Regions from separate parts of the Homo sapiens genome. Here region 2 is linked to region 1. Evidence: fine-mapped expression QTL. A gene starts in region 1. The other region holds a variant in brackets. All regions are shown on one strand. Distances are between the middles of the regions.

What was found. PIP is the estimated chance that this variant, and not a neighbour inherited with it, causes the effect.
Region 2: its variant is fine-mapped to the expression of CDH13-AS2 in whole blood (TOPMed, PIP above 0.99).

What each region holds. Positions count from the first base shown.
Region 1 is chr16:83,798,923-83,807,386 of GRCh38, reverse strand. CDH13-AS2 (CDH13 antisense RNA 2) reads left to right here and starts at 3,411. Exons shown (of 3, transcript NR_120308.1): 1 at 3,411-3,718; 2 at 3,859-3,952. CDH13 (cadherin 13) reads right to left here. Exons shown (of 14, transcript NM_001257.5): 14 at 6,747-8,464. RefSeq lists a silencer at 4,995-5,154.
Region 2 is chr16:83,720,864-83,733,791 of GRCh38, reverse strand. All of the region lies in intron 10 of CDH13 (cadherin 13), which reads right to left. It overlaps CEDORA (CDH13 antisense oligodendrocyte and neuron associated lncRNA), which reads left to right. Exons shown (of 4, transcript NR_188499.1): 2 at 4,793-4,924; 3 at 8,204-8,317; 4 at 11,960-12,928. Among named protein-coding and RNA genes, the nearest start is that of CEDORA, 46 kb to the left of the region's middle. RefSeq lists an enhancer at 5,354-5,854. The variant ATG/G (reference allele first, on the strand shown) is at 6,516.

The DNA.
Region 1 (8,464 bases):
GTGGGTTTGGGTGTTGAAGGAGGTGGGCACTGCTGATTTGGAACCTCAAGTTCCAACCCCACAGGTGGTCTTTAGGATTGGGTCTCATGGCAAGGGGATAGGAGAGTCCTTGACTGCGGGCCTGGCATGTTCTGGAAACTTTCACACATCTCATTTAAGGACTGTGCTATGTGAGGGGTCAGCTCCAGTTTGACTTTAGCTAGGGAGAGGCTGTAAGGTGTTAGAGCTGTTACGGGAAAGGGTCCTGATCCAGACCCCAAGAGAGGGGGTTCTTGGATCTCATGCAAGAAAGAATTCAGGGCGAGTCTGTAAAGTGAAAGCAAGTTTAAGAAAATGAAGGAATAAAAGAATGGTTACTCCATAGACAGAGCCCTGAGGGCTGCTGGTTGCTCATTTTTATAGTTATTTCTTGATTATATGCTAAACCAGGGGTGGGTGATTCATGCCTCCCCTTTTTAGACTATATAGCGTAACTTCTTGACGTTGCCATGGCATTTGTAAACTGTCATAGCGGTAATGGGAGTGTAGCAATGAAGACAAGCAGGGTTCACTCTTATTGCCATCTTGGTTTTGGTGGGTTTTGGCCGGCTTCTTTACCGCAAGCTGTTTTATCAGCAAGGTCTTTATGACCTGTACCTTGTGCTGACCTCCTATCCCATCCTGTGACTTAGAATCCTTTAACTGTCTGGGAATGCAGCCCAGTAGTTCTCAGCCTCAGTTTACCCAGCTCCTATTCGAGATGGAGTTGCTCTTGTTCAAACGCCTCTGCCAGACCCACCAGTGTCTCTAACAAACCCGGAATCCAGTTGGCCTTGAGGCATGAGACTTCAACTCCCTTTACCACCCCTTCCCCCTCACTCACACCTTTGCCCCTCACCCTTCACACCTCATCCTTTCCTATAGAGAGATCTTCCTTTCTGTGTAAGTATACACAACTTTTTTGTAATTGGCTGTTGTCAACTGGTATTTGGCTAGTGCTTTACCCGACTACTTGAAATAAAAATATCTCAGTGTTTTAAGTTAATCCTCAGAAGACCCTGTGATATAATTATCATAATTTTACATTTTTGAGAAAACAGATGCAGAGGCGTTAAGAAACTGGAACAAGGTCATCAAATTAAGGAAGTAAGAGACGCAGGACTTCCTGACTCTGCATCTTCTCCTTTTTTCTCACCATTCTAGAATTCTCTGAGTTTTTTGAGCTTAGAGCAGAGTTTCTCAAGAGCTGCAATACTGGCATTTGAGTCAAGTCGTTCTTTATTGTTGGTGGTGGAGGGGGCACCCTGTATATTGTAGGACGTTGGGCAGCATCTCTGACTTCTACCTACTAGATGCCAGTATCTCAGTTTTCTTAAAAGACTTTTTTTTTTTTTTTTTTTTTTTTGAGATGGAGTCTTGCTGTGTTGCCTAGGCTGGAGTGCAGTGGCACCATGTCGACTCACTGCAACCTCCGCCTCCCCGGTTCAAGCGATTCTCCTGCCTCAGCCTCCTGAGTAGCTGGGATTACAGGTGAGCACCACCATGCCCAGCTAATCGTAAAAGACTTTTCATAAAACTTCAGAACTCCTTAAAAACTAGTGAATAGCCAAGGTGAAGAAAGCCCTCAGGCTTCTGACTTTAGACCCCAATCCCTGGGACTCCCACACTCAGCAAAGAAAGCTGGGTGCCTGCACCCTGGATCTCTGAGCAAACCTGTCTTATGGCTGTGGGCAACTCAGGAACATGAATTAGCACGAGAATCTGGAGTTTTTCTTTCCTTTTCTGGTAAGACACTTGTGGTTTTTTTTTTTCAAATTCCAATTGGAAATTTGCTTTACATGAACAACAAACAAACTTGATACTCTTTTAGTGGAGGCATTATTTGTTCCTTTATTTTTTGCACTTAAACAGACAGGCAGTATGCTTTCTCTGTGTGGAGACCAAGGTCTGTTAAAGGGCTGCTTTTCACGGAAGCTTCACTAATTTATACTCATGGCTGACATACTCACCTTGTGGGGCTGACACACCGAACCTAACTGAATATTGTCCCATTAACAAAACTAATGTATTACGTGTAAGGCACCAGTAATTAACCTTTAAACTTCGGTTTTGAACAACTCTCATTTTTAACCTTTATTTAAGTGTCATAGTTGTCTTACCTCCTCTTGGCATTTTTTTTTTAAAGCTCTTCCTAGATTAATTGCATGTTGTAACTCCCTTTTTCCATTCAAGACAGTTTTGTTTTACGTGCGCTTATTATGGTACTTTTATAATTGCTTTTTGGTTCTCTGGGCCATTCTTTTGACATGCCTCCTTTCTTGGATCTGTACTATGATAGGTGGCTGGGCATGGTGGCTCATGCCTGTAATCCCAGCACTTTGGGAGGCTGAGGCAGGCAGATCACTTGAGACCAGGAGTTCAAGACCAGCCTCGCCAGTGTGGCGAAACCCCATCTCTACTAAAAATACAAAAATTAGCTGGGCTAGGTGGCGTGCACCTGTAATCCCAACTATTCAGGAGGCTGAGCCAGGAGAATCGCTTGACCTGGGGAGGCAGAGGTTGCAGTGAGCCGAGATCTATCCCCTGCACTCCATCCTGGGCAACAGATTGTGACTCTGTCTCAAAAAACAGTAATAATAAAATACACTATGGAAGGTGTTGGTCTGTCCATGTGACCACATGCAATGAGGTGCTTTGTGCGTTTGCCTTGTGTGAGCAGCGATGGAATGATCCTAGCGGGGCCTTGGAGGAACTGGAATGTTCTTTGCCTAGTTGCACCTGCGTCAGCTCTGTAGGCCCAGCCCTGGGGCCCAGCAGCTGCTCCCCTGGTTTGCTTTCCTCCCAGGTTGCCTCATGCTGCTGCTGAGCAACCTTCACCTGATGGGCGGTGCCACAGCAGGGTCAGTGAAGGGTGCCCCTTCCTTCTAGTGACCTGGGCTGCCCTAGCCCTGGCCCTTCAGTAGCCATTCCAAACCTTTCTGGTCCCCCCAAATCCAGGACTTTATCCCCTTCACCCTCAGAGGATGACCTTATATTCTATTTTGTGGAGAAAATGGAGACTGTCCATCAAAACCCCTTAACTCCCGTCCTGCGTGCATTCCTAAGTTCCTACATTAACCCCCGTGTCACTAGCTAACGATCCTTTCTGTCTCAGGAAGCAGTGTTCTTCCTCGCGCACAGGGCTCTGCGTTTGTCTAAGGCAGAGAGACCTGGGCCCTGATCCCATTCTCTTTCCTCAACTCCAGGAACTTGCTTCCTGCATTCATTTTCTTTTTTCCAATGATTCCTCCTTCTCAGCACATAAAAGTGACCAACCCCTCGCCCCACCCCCGCTGCACAAAAAACAAATAGAAAATGGAAACCAGTCCAACCAGGGTGAACCTCCACTGACTGTGTGCCCTTGTTGAGCTACTGCTCATAGGGGAGCTTCTAGAAAGGAAGGACTTATTGTCTTAGTTACTTGATCCACTTCCTTACCTCCTGTTCATGCAACTTTGCTTGTTTTGCTTCTACTAAAATGGTTCTAGGTGCTGTGTGGACAGGTGATACAAAAGCCTGACTCACACGGTTGACATTCATTCATTCCATTTTCATTTCTCTTTGAGTGATCCTGACAAGCAGAGGGTCTCAGGTGGATATTACTGTGTCTTTGAGACCTCTCTAATCCTTATCTATCTCTCATTTTAATACAGAGAGTTTCATACGCAGACCTTAAGTAGACATAGTATCCAGCTAAAAGGTAATTATGCTTTTTTGTTTGTTTTCATTGTATTTATTTTTACTGCTGCTTTATTGTATTCCAAGTGATACTGGTTTTTCATTCATGTTGTTATAATGTAGAGTTTTCTTTTTCTTTTTTCTTTTTTTTTTTTGAGACAGGGTCTCACTCTGTCACCCAGGCTGGAGTGCAGTGGCGCAGTCATGGCTCCCTGTAACCTCAACCTCTCAGACTCCAGCAATCCTCCTGCGACAGGTATGCACCATTACGCTTGTCTAATCTTTGTATTTTTTGTAGAGATGGAGTTTCGCCATGTTGTCTAGGCTGGTCTTGAACTCTTGGGCTCAAACCATCTACCTACCTGCCTTGGCCTCTCCAAATGCTGGGTTGATAGGTATGAGCTACCATGCCCGGCCAATGTACCAGCTTCTTTTAAAATAAATTCAAGCCAAAATTATAAATGTAAAATTACGTAGTTTAAAACTAGAGTTGTAGCTGATGGTACAGGTGGCATTTCAGTGTGGCAGAGTTAGTGAAGGTGCTGAGAGATGAGACAGGGAGACGGCTAAATAGGGACGATATTCCCTTGGGATTAAAGTTTAGAAAATCCTGCCTTGAAAGAAGGCAGGGAGCCAAAGGGTGAAGACATTGCGTGTGCTGTGAAACAACATGGTTACAAAATTTGATAAGGGGAAGCACAGGAACTATGACTGCATCAGGGTAACATCGACTTGCTTCTTCTCCGTGGGGATAAACTCAGAGAGGATGCTGAGGGATGTCAGCAGGTGCTGGGTCCCTGTTTTTCACAGAACAATCCTTCAGGTGCTAGTAAGCCTCAGGAGGAGGATGCTGTCCCGCTGGCACGAGGAGGGGCTGGGGCACGACAGTCATCATCCAAGCAAAGGTAGGGCTTAGTTACAGACACAGAACGGCAGATTTAATCTAGAAACACCACCATCCTGGTACCAGTCTTCTTGGCTTGGATTCCCATGTAAAAATCCAGCGTTGCTACCCTCTCAAGGGTGTGCCCTGGTTAGAATGAGTGGATATTTTGCCTCGCATTACCAAAGCACAAGGAGGTCTCTTTGAGGACTTGTTTGTAAAAAAATCAAACAACAACAAACAAACAAACAAAAACCTAGAAAATTGCTTTTCTCGGGGAGAATGGTGTGATCGGTGGTTGTTCTGACAATTTCACGTTCTCTTGCTTTCGGATTGAAGCATTGGTTTCTGTTTCTTATGTTCTTTTGAGGCAAATTTCCAAATTAGCGTCTCTATGACTGGCTGCCAAGGCATCCGTTTGCTATTTATTTACCCAAACTAGCAGTTTCCTGGAGACAGACTGCCTAGGGGGAAGGAAAGTTTTCTTATAGACCAGATTTGCAAGTTTGGGTTTCCTCTGCTTCATCCCCCATCATTGACAACTTGCTTAGTCCTCAGCACTTTCATGCATTGTTTGTGATGACACAGTTTGTTCCTGGAGATAAATGGGGTGGTGCTGCCTTAGCATATAGCAAGAAAAGTGCCAGGGTGGGGCCATGCATATCACTTAGTAGTCGTGAGACCTACTGTGAGATAGTTTTAACTGTGTGAACCTCAGTTTCTTCATCTATAGAATGGTGCTAATGTCTATTACATAAATTATGTATATGATATATAATTATGTATTACACATAAATTACAAATATAACTACAAGGTAATATGTATATACACATCTATATAGATACGTAAAGTATCCGGCCCGTAGGAAGCACTTAACGAATACCCCCTTCCCTTTTTTTTTTTTTTTTTCGCTTTTGAGTTGGAGTCTTGCTCTGCTCTGTTGCCCAGGCTGGAGTGCAGTGGCACTATCTTGGCTCACTGCAACCTCCGGCTCCCAGGTTCAAGAGAGTCTCCTGCCTCAGCCTCCTGAGTAGCTGGGATTACAGGTGCCCACCATTACACCTGGCTTAGTTTTATATTTTTGGTAGAGACGAGGTTTCTCCATGTTGGCCAGGCTGGTCTTGAACTCCTGACCTCAGGTGATCGGCCCACCTCTGCCTCCCAAATTGCTGGAATTACAGGCGTGAGCCACCACATCTGGCCCCCTCCTTTTTTTACAAAATGATCTCACTAACCTTCTTGCTATCTTCTCTCTCTTTCTATCTCTCTCTCTCTATCATCTATCCATCTATCCTTCTATCATCTATATATCTGTTTTTCCAAATCAGAATGATTGACTTTTATGAAAGAAGCAGAAGAGAGCCAATTATTAAGCAGGCAGCACTTGGTTTTAGTCTTGGTTTTTAAACATCATAGGCTAACCTGGTGTGGAGTCCTGATAAGTAAGCAACAATGAGGAAGGGGGGTCCCAGGTAGGGAACAACTGTTCCAAGAGACAGCTAATCACAAACAAGCCGCTGGCACAACTACCTCACTCCAAGTGTAACATCCTCCAGCACAACCCTATAAAACTTCCCTCCAGCCCCTGCCTCTTTCCAGACATCCCCTTCTCTGCTGTGCTGCCTGTTGCTTCCTTGCAACGTACTTTCCCTTGAATAATCAGCCTTTCTTTACCTACAACTGTCTTGGTAAATTGGTAAATTCTTCTTCTTCTTCTTCTTCTTCTTTTTTTTTTTTTTTGAGACAGAGTCTCACTCTGTTACCCAGGCTGGAGTGCAGCGGCGCTATCTCGGCTCACTGCAACCTCCGCCTCCCAGGTTCAAGCGATTCTCCCGCCTTAGCTTCCTGAGTAGCTGGGATTACAGGCATGCGCCACTGTGCCCAGCTAATTTTTGTATTTTTGGTAGAGATGGGGTTTCACCACTTTGGCTAGGCTGGTCACGAACTCCTGACCTCCGGTGATCTGCCCGCCTTGGCCTCCCAAAGTGCTGGGATTACAGGCGTGAGCCACCACGCCCTGCCGGTAAATTCTTTTACCATCCACAACACCGGCACCAGCCAGTTGCACCCATGACACTGTGCACCATTGGAAAAAAAGGTCCCTTTGCTCTGTCACAGTGTTTAGACCAGACTGTACTAAAGATGGTCTAAGACTAAACACACAAGTTAAAAATCCCAGATAAGCTTTATTTGAATGTTTCACAAACAAGTTGCACATTTCTCTGTAACTACATAGTAAAGCAAATGTTAGTTTACAGCTCAGAAACTGTAAGCAATTCAGCAGTGAGGGCCCAAAGGAGCGACATCTGCCATAGACTGAATATTTTAACATGATTAACTTTTATCCCTTTTGAAAAGTGTGTGTGAATAAAAAGCATTTAAAATTTCTTAAAATTTTTATCTGGGGGGATACATAAAATTTTGTCATCAGGACAGTGTTGACATGTGCATGACAACACAGATATAACTCTCTAATAATAGTCTGAATTCATGTGTACGACAGATATAGAATGGCTTTAGTACTCTCTAAAGAAAAAGCTTTTTAAAAAGTAGCAAAAAAATAGTCTCCAGTTTATTTTCATAGTGCTTCTATAAGCCCCTTTCTCCAAATCTTCATAGCTTCAGAGTGAAAACCTCCCTCGTCCTACACCACCCAACGCTTTTCACCATCTCCCTACCAATGAGACGGCACGTGGAAAGTCAAATAAAATGGTTCAAAGGCGTATCAAGCTCAGCAACCCTCCAACGATAGATGTGATGATAGCAACATAGTATGAGAGAGAGGAAATTTTTCCGCTTACTTAATTTGATGAGTATCTCAATTATTTCTGCTTAAATTATAGACTGACTCTTCTTAAATTATATAATTGAAGTTCTTATCTGAAACCCTCATACACACACCCATTCCCACCATTTTTTGCTGTCTCTCCATGTCTTGTATATGCTTTCATGTGAACACGGTCACAACTGCAGAATTTTTTCAATAGTGGGCTAATCTATTAGCAATAGGAAATATAGTAAGGGTAACACATTGCATATAGTAAAAGAATTGTTAATTGTGTTAGATGAACCATTTTGAAAGCATTTTATCATTAGACTGTGAAAATTATCAAATCTCAACAGTCAGTTAAGGAGAGAAGATGGAGGTCTTTATGAAAGATGTAGCCAGATTATTAGATTATTATTCTTAGTATTTGGTAAACAGAAAAGGTAGGTGGCTTTTTTAGTGCTTGGGTTTCCTGTTGGTGTGACTTACCCTGTTGACTCATGTTTAAGGCAGCTACACGTAAACAGATTTATGGGCTACCTTTACAAAATCAGCAACTACTTAGAGATCCTTTAGAATTTGCCCCTTTGAATGATTTATAGCAAAGCACAGTGCAAACCCTTTGAGACCCCACCCCACTTTCTCCCTCAGTTTTCTCTCCCCTCAGTTGGTTTGGTAGTGAATGGGTACTCTGGAGTTCATAAATTTCCTTTTCTTTCTTTTTTTTTTTTTTTTTTTTTGACGGAGTCTTGCTCTGTTGCCCAGGCTGGAGTGCAATGGCTCACTGCAAACTCTGCCTCCTGGGTTCAAGCGATTCTCCTGCCTCAGCCTCCTGAGTAGCTGGGGTTTCAGGTGTGCACCACCACACCCAGCTAATTTTTGTATTTTTTAGTAGAGATAGGGTTTCACCATGCTGGCCAGGCTGGTCTTGAACTCCTGACCTTAAGTGATCCACCCGCCTCTGCCTCCCAAAGGGCTGGGATTACAGGCATGAGTCACCATGCCCGGCTACTTTTGATTAACTGAGATGTTAAATTAATCTAGGAGAAGCCCCTCATCTACCTGCTAACAAGCCATGGAAGGGAAGGGGCAAATAATTACGTTATCTTGCACAGGA
Region 2 (12,928 bases), 76 kb after region 1:
CACGCTCACTGGGAGAGCAAACTGGGATGTCAGAAGACCAGAATGGGAAAGTTAATCACCCCTCTGTATTTGTTCTCAGAGTTTATTTTTATTGGGTGATTAACCGACACACCATGGCCTTTGCTCTGGCACCTGGGTCTCTGAGTCCAGCTCAGACCAAGCTGAGCATGGATATTGCCACTTTCAAGAAGTCAATAAATGAAGCCAGCTGCAGCGGGGACCACAGTGAGATAGATGGCTGAGCCTCGCATTATGACTTGAAGCTCAGTGAATGTGGTCTGGCCGGCTGCCAAGCAAGGAGGTACTTAGAGGCAGCTGTGCTTAGCTTAGGTGATGACGGGACCTCCCTCTCCAGTGGCATCCTAATAGACAACCGTCTATAGAGACTGCATTCGTGATGGAGGCCAGGTTACCGGGAGGGCTGCAGGGTCCCTGGGAGACAGAAGCATCTGGGTTTCACAAGGAGAGAGCTCACCCAGGAGCACGAGTCCAGTGTGCGCTCACGGATCATCATCCGGAGGCACCATCACCAAAACAGGTGATGCTGCTGGCTGTTCTGTGAAGGAGCTGGAGGGTTATTTCCATCACTGAGTGCTCAGAATCACACATTCCCAGCCCTGTGTACTGATTTCCAGTGTTCATTCCATACATACGCTTTGACCACCTTCTATCTTCCCAGTATTCTGTTAGGGACTGGGGAGTTTGCAGTGATCAAGGTGGGGAGCTTCCTGCCCTTGGGATGCGTATCTTCACCAAGGCATTTACTATCTGATGTTGTAATTTTCACACAAGGTAGCGAGCTCCCAGGGATACACTTTGTCTTTCCCTCTTCATGTAGGCAGTGAGTGGCCTCATGTCTGGCCATACAGGCCTTGGTTAAAGATGGGTGAGTGAATGGGCAGAAAAGTCAATGTGTCAGAAGCAAGTGGAAGAGCAGCCTGGAATTCCAAGGAGTTGATATCCCCAGGGATTTCAAGGCTCTGTGATGACAAGTGCAGCTGAATCCCTGCAGGAAGCAGTTGGGTTTGGTGCCCCTGGTGAGGTCAGGGGTGTCAAGTACTGAGATTAGCAAGGGGGATGAGATGTATCCTGGGCCTGCAAGCCTCCCTCTGTATGAGGATGCCAGCTGTTTCTACGTGTGGGAACATCAGTTGCCAGGAAGAATGTGGCTCAGCTCTGCTATCATCTTTCTGGATGTAGGAGGTTCTACATTAGCACTAGTGTAGAAACAGAACCCTACTACAGTTTCCGGGTCCTCTATTCTGTTGCTCACAGAACAGGAGAGTGAGATTTAAAAAATGTACGTCATGTCCCTTTCAGGCTTCAAAACCTTTGTGGCTTTGGGGACTGATCACTGCTCACCTCCCACCATCAACTCACCCTGTTCCCCAGTCCAAAGCTAGCCAGGCTCTCCCATCGTCCCAGCCTTTGCATTAGCTGTTGGTTTCTCCCCCTCACCTCTCCCCTTGGCTGGTTCATTATCACTCTTCAGATCACACATCATCTCCCTCCTAACCAGCCCATCTAAGGTGGCCTTCTCCAGTTACTCTCCATCCCATTAAGCTGTTGACTCTCCCATGGGAAAGAGCTGTAAGCTGTAATCACACCGGTTGTGTGATCAGACATTCATTGGCTTGTTCATTGCCGGTCTTCCCACTAGAATGGAAACTCCACACTGTCTTGTTCACTGCTATCCTCAGGGCTAGTTAGGACCCGGCTCACAGTGTGAATTTTTCAATATTTTTTGAATAAATAAATAAACCAGGATGATTACCTTTAGGTTGGATGTATGAAGAATAGCTAGCCTGTCCAAAACATTTACTTTCAGCCTTGTTATTTAATCTGAAAAGCAATATTCACAACTGGCATTTATCGACTACCTGCTACCTGTCATGCAGCATTTAAATCTTCCACAAACCTTTGAGCTAGTTTATACACGAGAATTTTGCTCATTTTACATTTTCCTGTCTGAAGTCTAGAAAAAGAAAATGGATACTTTCTGAATAAATCAACCTCTTCTAAACTGACTTGCCAGAAGACGAGAAAAGAATCCAGCTGGAAAAAACCTAGGAAATAGCATTCTGCACATTGACCTTGGCAAAGAATTTATGACAAAGTCCCCAAAAGCAATTGCACCAAAAACAAAAATTGGCAAAGAAACTATCAACAGAATAAACAGACAACCTATAGAATGGAAAGAAATATTCACAAATTATGCTTCCAACAAAGGTCTAATATCCAGAATCTATAAGTAACTTTAACAACTCAACAAGCAAACAACTACCCCATTACAAAATGGTCAAAGACATGAACAGACACTTTGCAAAAGAACACATACGTGCGGTCAACAAACATATGAAGAAATGCTCCACGTCACTAATCCTCAGAGAAATGCAAATCAAAACCACAATGAGATACCATCTCACACCAGTCAGAATAGCTATTATTAAAAAGTCAAAAAATGACAGATGCTGCCCAGGTTACAGAGAAAAGGGAACTCTTATACACTGTTGGTGCGAATGTAAATCAGTTCAGCCCCTGTCCAAAGCAGTTTGGAGATTTCTCAAAGAACTTAGAACAGAACTACCATTTGACTCAGCAATCCTACTACTGGGTGTTTATCCAAAAGAAGATAAATTGTTTTGCCAAAAAGACACATGCACTTGTATGTTTATCACAGCACAATGCACAATGGCAAGCACAAGGAACCAATCCAGGTGCTCATCAATGGTGGAATGGATAAAGAAAATGCAGTGCGTGTATACCATGGAATACTATGCAGCTGTGAAAAAGGATGAAATTGTGTTCTTTGCAGCAACATGGATGCAGCTGGAGGCCATTAACCTAAGCGAATTAGCACAGGGACAGAAAACCAAATACTGCATGTTCTCAGTTCTAAGTGGGAGCTAAACATTGAGTACACACAGACACAAAGATGGGAGCAATAGACATTGGGGACTACTAGAAGGGGGAGCATGGAAGGGGTGTAAGGGTTGAAAACTATCGGGTACTATGCACACTGTCTGGGTGATGGGATCACTCATACCCCAAACTTCAGCAACACGCAATAGACCCAGGTAATAAACCTGCCCATGGACCCCCTGAATCTAAAAGCTCAAAAAAACCACAAACCAAAAAACGAAAACAAAACAAAAACAAACAAACAAAAAACCCAGGTGATCCTTTGTACCCAGTTCAATTGTATGAATTTTTTAAAAGAATACCACCGTATATTTTAGTGTGTTGAACTTTTCATCGAATTGTGATTTTAAAAAGTCACAGTTTAGCCCAGAAGGAGGTATCTCCAAGTTTGTCAGTTCCTAAAACAACATTCTAGAGGGAAACAAATGAAAATCTCTTGGAACTGTACATATTCTTTGACCCAGAAATTCTTCCTCTAATTATTTAGCTTAAAGAAATAGCTATAGGGAGCACATTCCAAAACTGGGGAATGCCAGGTTAATAACATCAAATGAGGTCCCCCTTTGCGCAAGAATTCTCAGAGCCTTTAATACTCAGATTTGCATTGTGAAGATCTGAGAGAGGGCCTTAGAATAATGCATAGCTCAGACTTATTTGGCTGAAATATTTAGCGACAATTATATTTTCTCCTTCAATGTTTACTATAGAAAAATAAAAAATCAATCAGGGAACTGTTGATCAAAAGTGATAATGGAATGCTACGTAGACATTAAAAGCCATGATGAACACAGCATGACAAGATGACAACACATACGAAGTAAATCTTTATAGTAGGTAGGTATGTGTATAGCACCGTGAGGGTCCACATGCAAACATGTGGCAGGCTCGCTGCCCCCTTCTCACAAGCACGGTAATGACTTGGCAATGGCCAGGTCAGCTTCAAAACCCCTCTTTGTATGAAGCCCTGTGTGCCAAACCCTTCTTTTTCACAGGGCTTGACATACAATCCCAAACAGATTTGCTGCTGCTGGCTGAGAAAATACCTTGGAAGGGAATGCTAGTGGCAGTTGCGGTAATAATTATGATCATGATGATGATAATAATAGAGTCACAGATAATATTTATTGAGCACTTGCTTTGTGCCAGGGAATTTCCAAGCACTTTACATGGGTCAGCTTATTTAAGTCTAACAATAACTTCATGTGGGTGGGATTACTGACCCATTATATAGATGAAGAAACAGAGGTGGTGAGGGACTAAGTAGCTGGGTCCAGGACACACAGCTAGTAAGTGATAGAGTTGTCCAACCATAGCGCCCATGCTCTTAACAGTGATGCCTCGCTGTCTGACCTGGGTCTTAGGAGTAGTGGTATCTGGCTAGTGGGATTTACATCTTTCTTAGTTTTGCCTATCTCAGTTGCTAAAATTTTTACCATGAGCCTATATTTGTTTTGCAAATAAAATTTTTTTGGCAATAAAAAGACTAGTAATACAAAGATGATTTCCTTTATATCTCTACATTTCCATTTTCTCTTCTTTGTGAAACCTTATTACTATAGATGGTATATTTACTATATATACATACACATATGTATAATATGCATGTCTTATCTATGATATGTAACAGTATATGATGTATATGCACATAAATAATATATCCATTTTATACTTGTGAACTGAACATTTGTTGCTGTTCCCCCCAAATTCGGATGTTGATAGAACTCTAACCCCCATTGTGGCAGTACTTGGAGGTGGGCCTCTCCTTAGGAAGTTAAGGTTACATGAGGTCATGAGGATGGAGCTCTGATCTGATAGGATGAGGATCCTTATAAAAGGAGACCCTGTATGCTCCCTAATCCCCACCCTCCAGGTACATGCCCCAAGGAAATGAGGCTACATGAGGACACAGCAAGAAGGTGGCTGTCTGCAAGCCAGAAAGAGAGCCCTCCCCAGAGACTGAACCAGCTAGAACCATGATCTTGGACTTCCAGCCTCCAGAACTGTGAGTAATACATGTCTGTATTCAAGCTGCCCAGTCTGTGGTATTTGGTTATGGCAGCCTGAGCTAAGACAATACTATCTAAATATTAGGTTGAACCACACAGTTGCCATTTCTCTCGTCAAAACCCGTCACATCAGCAATTTCACATGGCCCAACCTAATATATAAACATATATACAATAAAAACGGCATGTCGTAATTGTGTGCTTTCCTTCCTGCTGGGCACAGTGCTTTGAAGGCCGAGAGACACGCTTATTTATCTTTGCTTTCTCTTCTCTCCAGGCTTCCATTGGCACTTGGTAAACACTGGTGACTGAGTGGGTAAATTACAAAGATGAGCATTTTGAATTCCTCTTCCAACAGAAGCTTTAATGTAGTTCTTATCAAGCCTAATTCACTCACTAAAAAGAATTGCATTGCACATATTGGCAGGAGCTATTGAACTGTTGTTTGTCAAGACCTTTTCTCCTCGTTTCATAGGGACTCAAACTAAATGTATCTTCACAACACACACACACACACACACGCACACACATACACATACACACATAGCCAGTGCCATTCAACTGTTAGCGAATCACACCGCTTACGGCTCACAGGCTTGTGGGGTCAGCCCGTGAGAACAGGCACCTTCTCTCCAGGGCCCAGTGTGCACATCAAAGACTTAAACCCTGTGGTCGAGGATAGACTCTGAGACAGAGACGTGGTGTGTGGCTCTGAAGCCTGCCCGCGGTGCTGTTCCCCCTTTCCAGGCAGCGTGCTCACTGCTGTCCACATCTGAGTATGTGTTGCCGCATAACAGACTCCTCAGAGGAGCTGTGGCTCTTTGTACAGTCACAGTTTTCAAAAGCTTTTGCCTCACAAAAGAAAAAGCAAAGCGCCTTCCCTCAGGCAGTTTTCAATTCTTCCCTCCAAATCCATCAGTCAAACTTGATACTTAAACCCTTGAATCCCAAAAGCTCCTTTGAGAAGCGAGCCCATTAGCAGCGGGCGGGAATGGCTGCCCTCCCCGCCAACGCCCCTGTTCACTCCCTGGGCTGCCCTGCTGTGACTGGTGAGCAAAGTTGTCAGCCAGTTCCGTCAAGGGATCTGTCATTCCCAAACCTGTTTGGTCCTTAGTCCTCCTGTCCTGAACACACAGGCCTTTCCTGGAGAGCTAGCAAGCCTAAGACTTTTTTGGCCTTTGAATGCAATTTTATTTTTTAGGGCTTCTAATGTTGATGTACTAACATTCTCGGCTTATAAAATCTCCAATGTTGATATTTCATTTAGTAAAACTGATATTTTTCTTTCTCAATGCGGGAAGGTTGGAAGGTTCTCCTTTGAGAACCCACTGCCGCAGTGGTGATCTCTGGAACAGGTGGATAGGTGTGCACTAAATAAAGCAAGCAGAAGAAGATGTGCTGGGAGAATCTCGGTGATGGGGCAAAGGGTGCTTGCTATAAAATTCTTCCAACGTTTCCACATGTTTGAAAACTGTTCTAAAGTTGAGAAAATACAATAAAATGATGAATGTGTCTGTTCTCTAAACACTCAGCAGCGTCCCTTCCCACGTAGATGTCTTTCTGCTACAAAACCATTAAGGATATCAC[ATG/G]TTAGCTGATTTCATTCCGATGAAATGTCCGTACTAGGCAAACCCACAGAGACAGGAAGCTGGTTAGTGGTCACTAGAGCAGTGGGGAGAAGGAAGCACGTTAACGGTTAAGGGGGATGGGGCTTCTCTTTAGGGTGCTGAAAATGTTCTAAAATCGAGGGCGGTGATGGTTGCACAACTCTGTGACTACACTAAAAACCATTGAATTGTATATTTTAAATGGGTGAATTGTACGGTATGTGAATTATATCTCATAAATCAATACAGCTGTTATACATGGGAAAGATAACTTCAAGGAAGGGAGGTATCCATGATTTCCAGGGCTGCTAAAACAGAACAAAACAAGGCACAAACCAAACACTCCTCCCTCGATAGTCTTCAGAATACTCTTGACTGACAGAACGCCAAAAAAGGACGGTGATTTTTTTTTTTTTTTGAGACAGAGTCTTGCTCTGTCGCCCCAGGCTGGAGCGCAGTGGCGCCATCTCCGCTCACTACAAGCTCCGCCTCCCGGGTTCACGCCATTCCCCTGCCTCAGCCTCGCGAGTAGCTGGGACTACAGGGGCCCGCCTCCACGCTCGGCTAATTTTTTTTTGTATTTTTAGTAGAGACGGGGTTTCACCGTGTTAGCCAGGATGGTCTTGATCTCCTCACCTCGTGATCTGCCCGCCTCGGCCTCCCAAAGGGCCGGGATTACAGGCGTGAGCCACCGTGCCCAGCCAACAGTGATGTTTTGATTTTTCTTCCATTTTTTGCCCGTTTAGCAAATACTCAACAAACAAAAGACGTGCAGAGTCTCCCCTGCAGGGCCTGCCTTCTTAGTGGCAATGGCTGCAGCAGAAGGGGCCAAGATAACGATTTGTCTGGAGAATGAACAAATAAATAAATAAATGAATGAATGAATGGACCCTATCTAGGGTCCTTGTTTCTCCAAAACCCGAACAGACACCCCGGTCTTGTCACAAACTTGGCCTGTGACCTGCAGCACATGACTGTCACTCTTGGGCCTCAGTTTCCCCATCTAAAAAACAGAGGTCATGTGAAATGATGGTCTCTAAGGTGCCTTCTAACTGATACATTATGACAATCTTTCCAAAAGCAATTGTTATTCAATGGCTGAGCAAAAAAGTTATAAAATTATCCCTTGTGGGAAGATTCAGACCAAGGTCCAGTTTTCTCTACATGAAAATGCAACACTTTACAATGTTGTGTAAGTGCAGAAAGTGAAAAGACAATCATTAAAAAGCTGAGAAAAATAAAGTCAGGAAAGAATGCTACATAAATCGCTCAGTCTGACTTCAAAGGGAAATTTTTTTCCAAAGTAAGATCATGAGAATTGATTTATGTCCTCAGAGCCAATGCAAATGCAGGATTTGTACAATATCCATTTATCAGTTCCAAAGGAGCTGATTTACGGCCCACCTCTTCTAGTTTGTATTCTGTCCAGCTCAGAAAGTTAACTGACAACACAGAAAGAAATATCCTCTGTCTCATTGCAGATGACGGGTTATAAATGAGCACAACTTGATTCTCTGTTCTGGAAAATTAGTGTTTTGAAACTCTCATTAGAAATTAGTCATTAAAGCTGTTCCCAAACTTGCCTGCTTGGCCCATCACTTTGTTGCTGTTTTTGGTTGTTTAACGTTCTGACAATGTCAGCCAGAGAAACGACTGCCTTTGTCTTAGGTTATTCTAGGTCGACTTCCGTGTCTGGATGTAACCAAATCACCAGCCAGACCGTGACCAGGACACATCATACCGCTTGCCCCCGGCAGAGATCCTGTGCCCACATGTGATAAGGTGGGTGATGCAGACCTGGTGCTCAGTATGTCAGTCACAAACTGTGTAGGCCTGGAGGAGGTGGAGACAGAGGTACCACTTGACCCTCCTTCCCAGATTAGTGGAGAAGACGGAACTCATGTTTCCCAGACTGACGCCTAAGGATAGATTAGATCCACAGGATACACAAGACCCGTTGCAGTCCTGCCTGTGTGTTGAGTGAACGGATCTAGCTCTCTTGGCCACCATGCCTTTGTTTATCCCATTTCCTCTGCCTGAACATCCTTGCCCTGGTCTACCTGCAAGTCTGAGCCCAGCTGTCCCTTCCTTCCTTGACTTTGACTGATGTGCCTTTCTCTCTGCTGCTGTTATATTGTAGTGTTTTCACCTCAAATGTCACTTTCATCATAGCTTTTATACTAAAAGGGTCTGTTTATTCATCTCTTTCTTTCTCTAGACTGAGTGAAACTGGATGACAGAGGCCATATGTGTCGTGGTGACTGTATATCCCCACTATCTGTGAATCAGGGCTTAATTTGCATTGATTGGCCTAATGAGGACACCAATAAGGGAGTCCCAGGGGTAGGATGATCCTGCAGCTGGAAGAAAGGCTGGGAAGCCATATAGAGTTGTACCCAAAGGCCATCTCAAGGGAGCAGCTCCTGGCTGCAGGTTACAATATAGCCCCTGCTCACCCAGCTGGTTGTGTCCCTGCTGACACTTCATCAATCATCTTGCTCCTGACGCTGACACTGCTCAGGCTGGGAAGGGAGGGGAAAGTAAGGATACAGGTGTCTAGGAGAGAGCTTAGGAGATAGGCTCCTTCAGTGAGATGGTAGGAGACAAGCCCCAACATAGTCACAGGGGGCTTCAAGTAAGACGCTTCCTCCAATCTGAGCTGGTTTGAGCTTGTACAACTTCATCCATCCATGTATCCATCCATTCATGCATTCATCATTCATCCATGCATTCATCCACCGACTCATGCATTTATCACTCACCCATGCATTCCACACTCATCCATGCATTCATCATCCACCCATGCATTCATCATCCACCCATGCATTCCTCACTCACCTATGCATTCATCACTCACCCATGCATTCATCACCCACCCATGCATTCATCCCCCACCCATGCATTCATCACTCAGCCATGCATTCCACACTCATCCATTCATTCATCACTCACCCATGCATTCATCACCTACCCATGCATTAATCACCCACCCATGCATTCATCATCCACCCATGCATTCCACATTCATCCATGCATTCATCACCCACCCATGCATTCATCACCCACCCATGCATTTATCACTCACCCATGTATTCATCACCCACCCATGCATTCATCACCCACCCATGCATTCATCACTCACCCATACATTCATCACCCACCCATGCTTTCCACACTCACCCATGCATTCATCACTCACCCACGCATTCACCACTCACCCATGCGTTCATCACCCACCCATGCATTCATCATCCATCCATGCATTCCACATTCATCCATGCATTCATCACCCACCCAGGCATTCATCACTCATCCATGTGTCTATCCATGCATCCATCAATTCATGTATCCATCCATCTATCCATCCATCCATCCATCCATCCATTCTTCCATGGATCTATGCATCTGTCCACCCATCCCCTCATTCTTTCAATATTTATTGTGTAGCTATTATATGTCAGACATTCTTCTTTACTCTGCATATATGAAAGAGAACAAGGCATGAAATTCCTGTTCTCATGGAGCTTCTGTTCTACAAGAGGAAGGGAGATCATAAAAATAGTTAACACACAATACGATAACTTCAGAGAGTGGTATGTGCTCTGAAAGCCGTCCCATTGGGCAACAGTACAGGGAGTGACCAGTGACAGGTGGGCAGAGTTGAGGAGGGCTTCTTTAGCGAAGGTGATCAGGGAAAGCCTTGCAAAGGAGATGATAGTGAGACTGAAGTGAAAAGGAGACAGTCACATGAAGGCCTGGGCAAGGGAGAACATTCCAGGCAGAGGGAGCCACAGTGAGCTGATGTCACTGAGGAGCCTCCAGCTAAGCAGCAGCTTGGAGACAGAGGGCCAAGCAGAGGCGAATCAGACAAAAGCACACTCAAATCTTGGCTCAGCCCTTTAGTATCTGTGGGACATGGAGAGAGGTGCTAACCTTCCAAGCTTTTACTTCTCTATATGTGAAATGGAGACACTAAAACCTCACTCATAGGGTGGGTGAAAAGATGAAGTCGTATACAGAGCATGGTCCTTGGCATGAGGTAGCTTATCAAGCCCAGATACTTCCAAATCCTTCTGCCAAGTGAAAGTCATCGTGCTTCTCACATCAGCATCCTAAGACAGGCAGGAAGATTGATCACCTTGCTTCTGGTAACCAGTTTCAGACTGACATGTCTGCATGATTCCACCTTCATTCCATATTTTAAAAATGCACCATGTACTCCCTTTATTAAGCATGTCACCCAGCTCTAGTTACTGTGAAACTAGAAGGTCACAGCTCAGCTCTGTGCTCAGAAATATGGCACCTGTCAGGTGCATGATTTAGGAACTTGGCCTTCCTCAGTGGGACCTCAGTGTAGTAAAATCAAGTCAACGATTCAATCCATGGCTGCTGATAAAGACTGGGAGAAATATGAAGCTGCTGTCTTAGCAATACACTTTTCATTAGTGAACTTTTTTAGTAAGATGACATTGAAATCCACCCCCCCAGCCTGGTTTCCAAATAGCTCAGCACTGTAACCTGAATAAGACGTGGTGACTCTGCTGGACAAAGACCAAAAGCCTTGCGAGGGTGTGGGACAGACAACAGGATACATCAGTGCAGTTGGCTCAGTTTTGCAAGGTTAGACTTCTCTCATTTGATTTCACTTACCTCTGGCTATTTTCCTTTTCTTTGCCAGAGGAACACTGGCAAATGTTTAACATCTGATTCTCTGGAGGTGGGGAAAGCTTGAATTAATAGTGTTTGTCTAATTCCATGATAGAAGTATTTCCAATGTGGCCAGTTTCGAGTTACTCCCACGATGTCACTGAATGCACAGCTACAAAGAGATGGTAACAACTGGCCCCTGCAAACTGCTATGAATTGGCTCTAGGGCAACACTGCTACACCATCTCCCTACGAATAACAGGGATCCCCTTTGTGGGGTTGGACACTGTACATATGTAGCTGGCACTACATGCATGATATTTCATATAATCTTAACTATCATTGTTTGAGGCTGGGATTACTATTGCCATTTCAGGGATGAGAATAGCAAGGCTCAGAGAGATTGTGTAGCCAGCATCGGTTCACATAATTAGCAGGCAGCGAAGTTGGGATTTGAATACTGTGGGCACCTTTCATGTGGCACACTCCTCCCCACTCTGAGTCCTCCTCTTTCTTCCCTGGGAATGAGTAGCTTGCTTCCTAACAAGCTCCAGGGCTCCAGTGTCCCCTGGATCCTCCCACAGTGCTCTTTTGCACATGGACCCCTCCACTCCCAGTTCAGAATGAAGTCCAGTTTACTTAGCTTGGCTCCAGGGTGCAGCCTGTACTTCCTCATCCAATCTCTCTACTCTAGCAAAATGGGTTTCCCCACGGTCCCTAGATGTGTGTGAGATGGTTGACCTTCTTGCATTATCAGCTTCTCCTTATTCCACTTAGATGCAACGATCTCATTCAAACTCTGTCTTGTCCTGCTAGTCCTGCTAGCCCTGCTAAACCACTTGAGCCCCTGGAGTCTCTTCCTCCCTGGAGCTTCTACAGCATTCCTATCTGGACCATTCGCCAGGTGGTTAACACTGGAAACAAAAACTATGTTGTTTGCTGGTTTGGATTTCTTACAGCTCCCAGGAGACCACAAGCTACTTGGAGGTAGGACCAAGTGGTGTACATAACGACCAGACAGCCACAAAGAGTCCCTTGCTCAGACAGGTGTTCAGCAACTCTTCCCAGAGCAAAACATGCCTGTCTTGCCCACTGCGGAGTAACTGCAAGGCAGCGCACTGCTCCTCTGGGGTCTCAGACCCAATGGCAGCCTTACAAGAATAAACTCAAGCTGTTTTAAAAAATATTTTTAAACAGCAAACCTCTCCTCTCTAAATGACATTTAATTGCTTCAAAGATCAAGAGAAGGCAACTTCTTTGTGGCTGGGCGTGCAAACAACCTGCGTTCTTCAGGGCTCTGGGTATGGGTTACAAGATTCATCGTGACTCAATTCTCCAATCCACTGAGTTTTGGAGGACACAGGCAGTGTGTCACTGCAGATGGACTGCCAACCCCCAATTAAACTGTTCTGGATGGCTACTGGTGGTGACCTTCAGGTGACATTGGTCAAGCCTCAAAGGAGTGTGGCCACCCAACCCTAGCAGAGTTTGAGTGTGCCAGGTGCTCATTACTGAACCCACTTCTCAGTCTACATCAAACAACCATGCTGGCCAGAAATGGTGTGCTGAGTTCTGACGATACAGAAACACCACACTACTGATGATACAGGTGCATACATGAAACCTCCTGGTGGCAGGAAGACTCGTTCCTGAGGGCCTGATGGCTCCCACACCGAGGAATGCTCTGCCAGAGGCCAGTCCATTTCAGGCACAGTTATAACCCACTCCATAAAGGTTGTGCCAGGG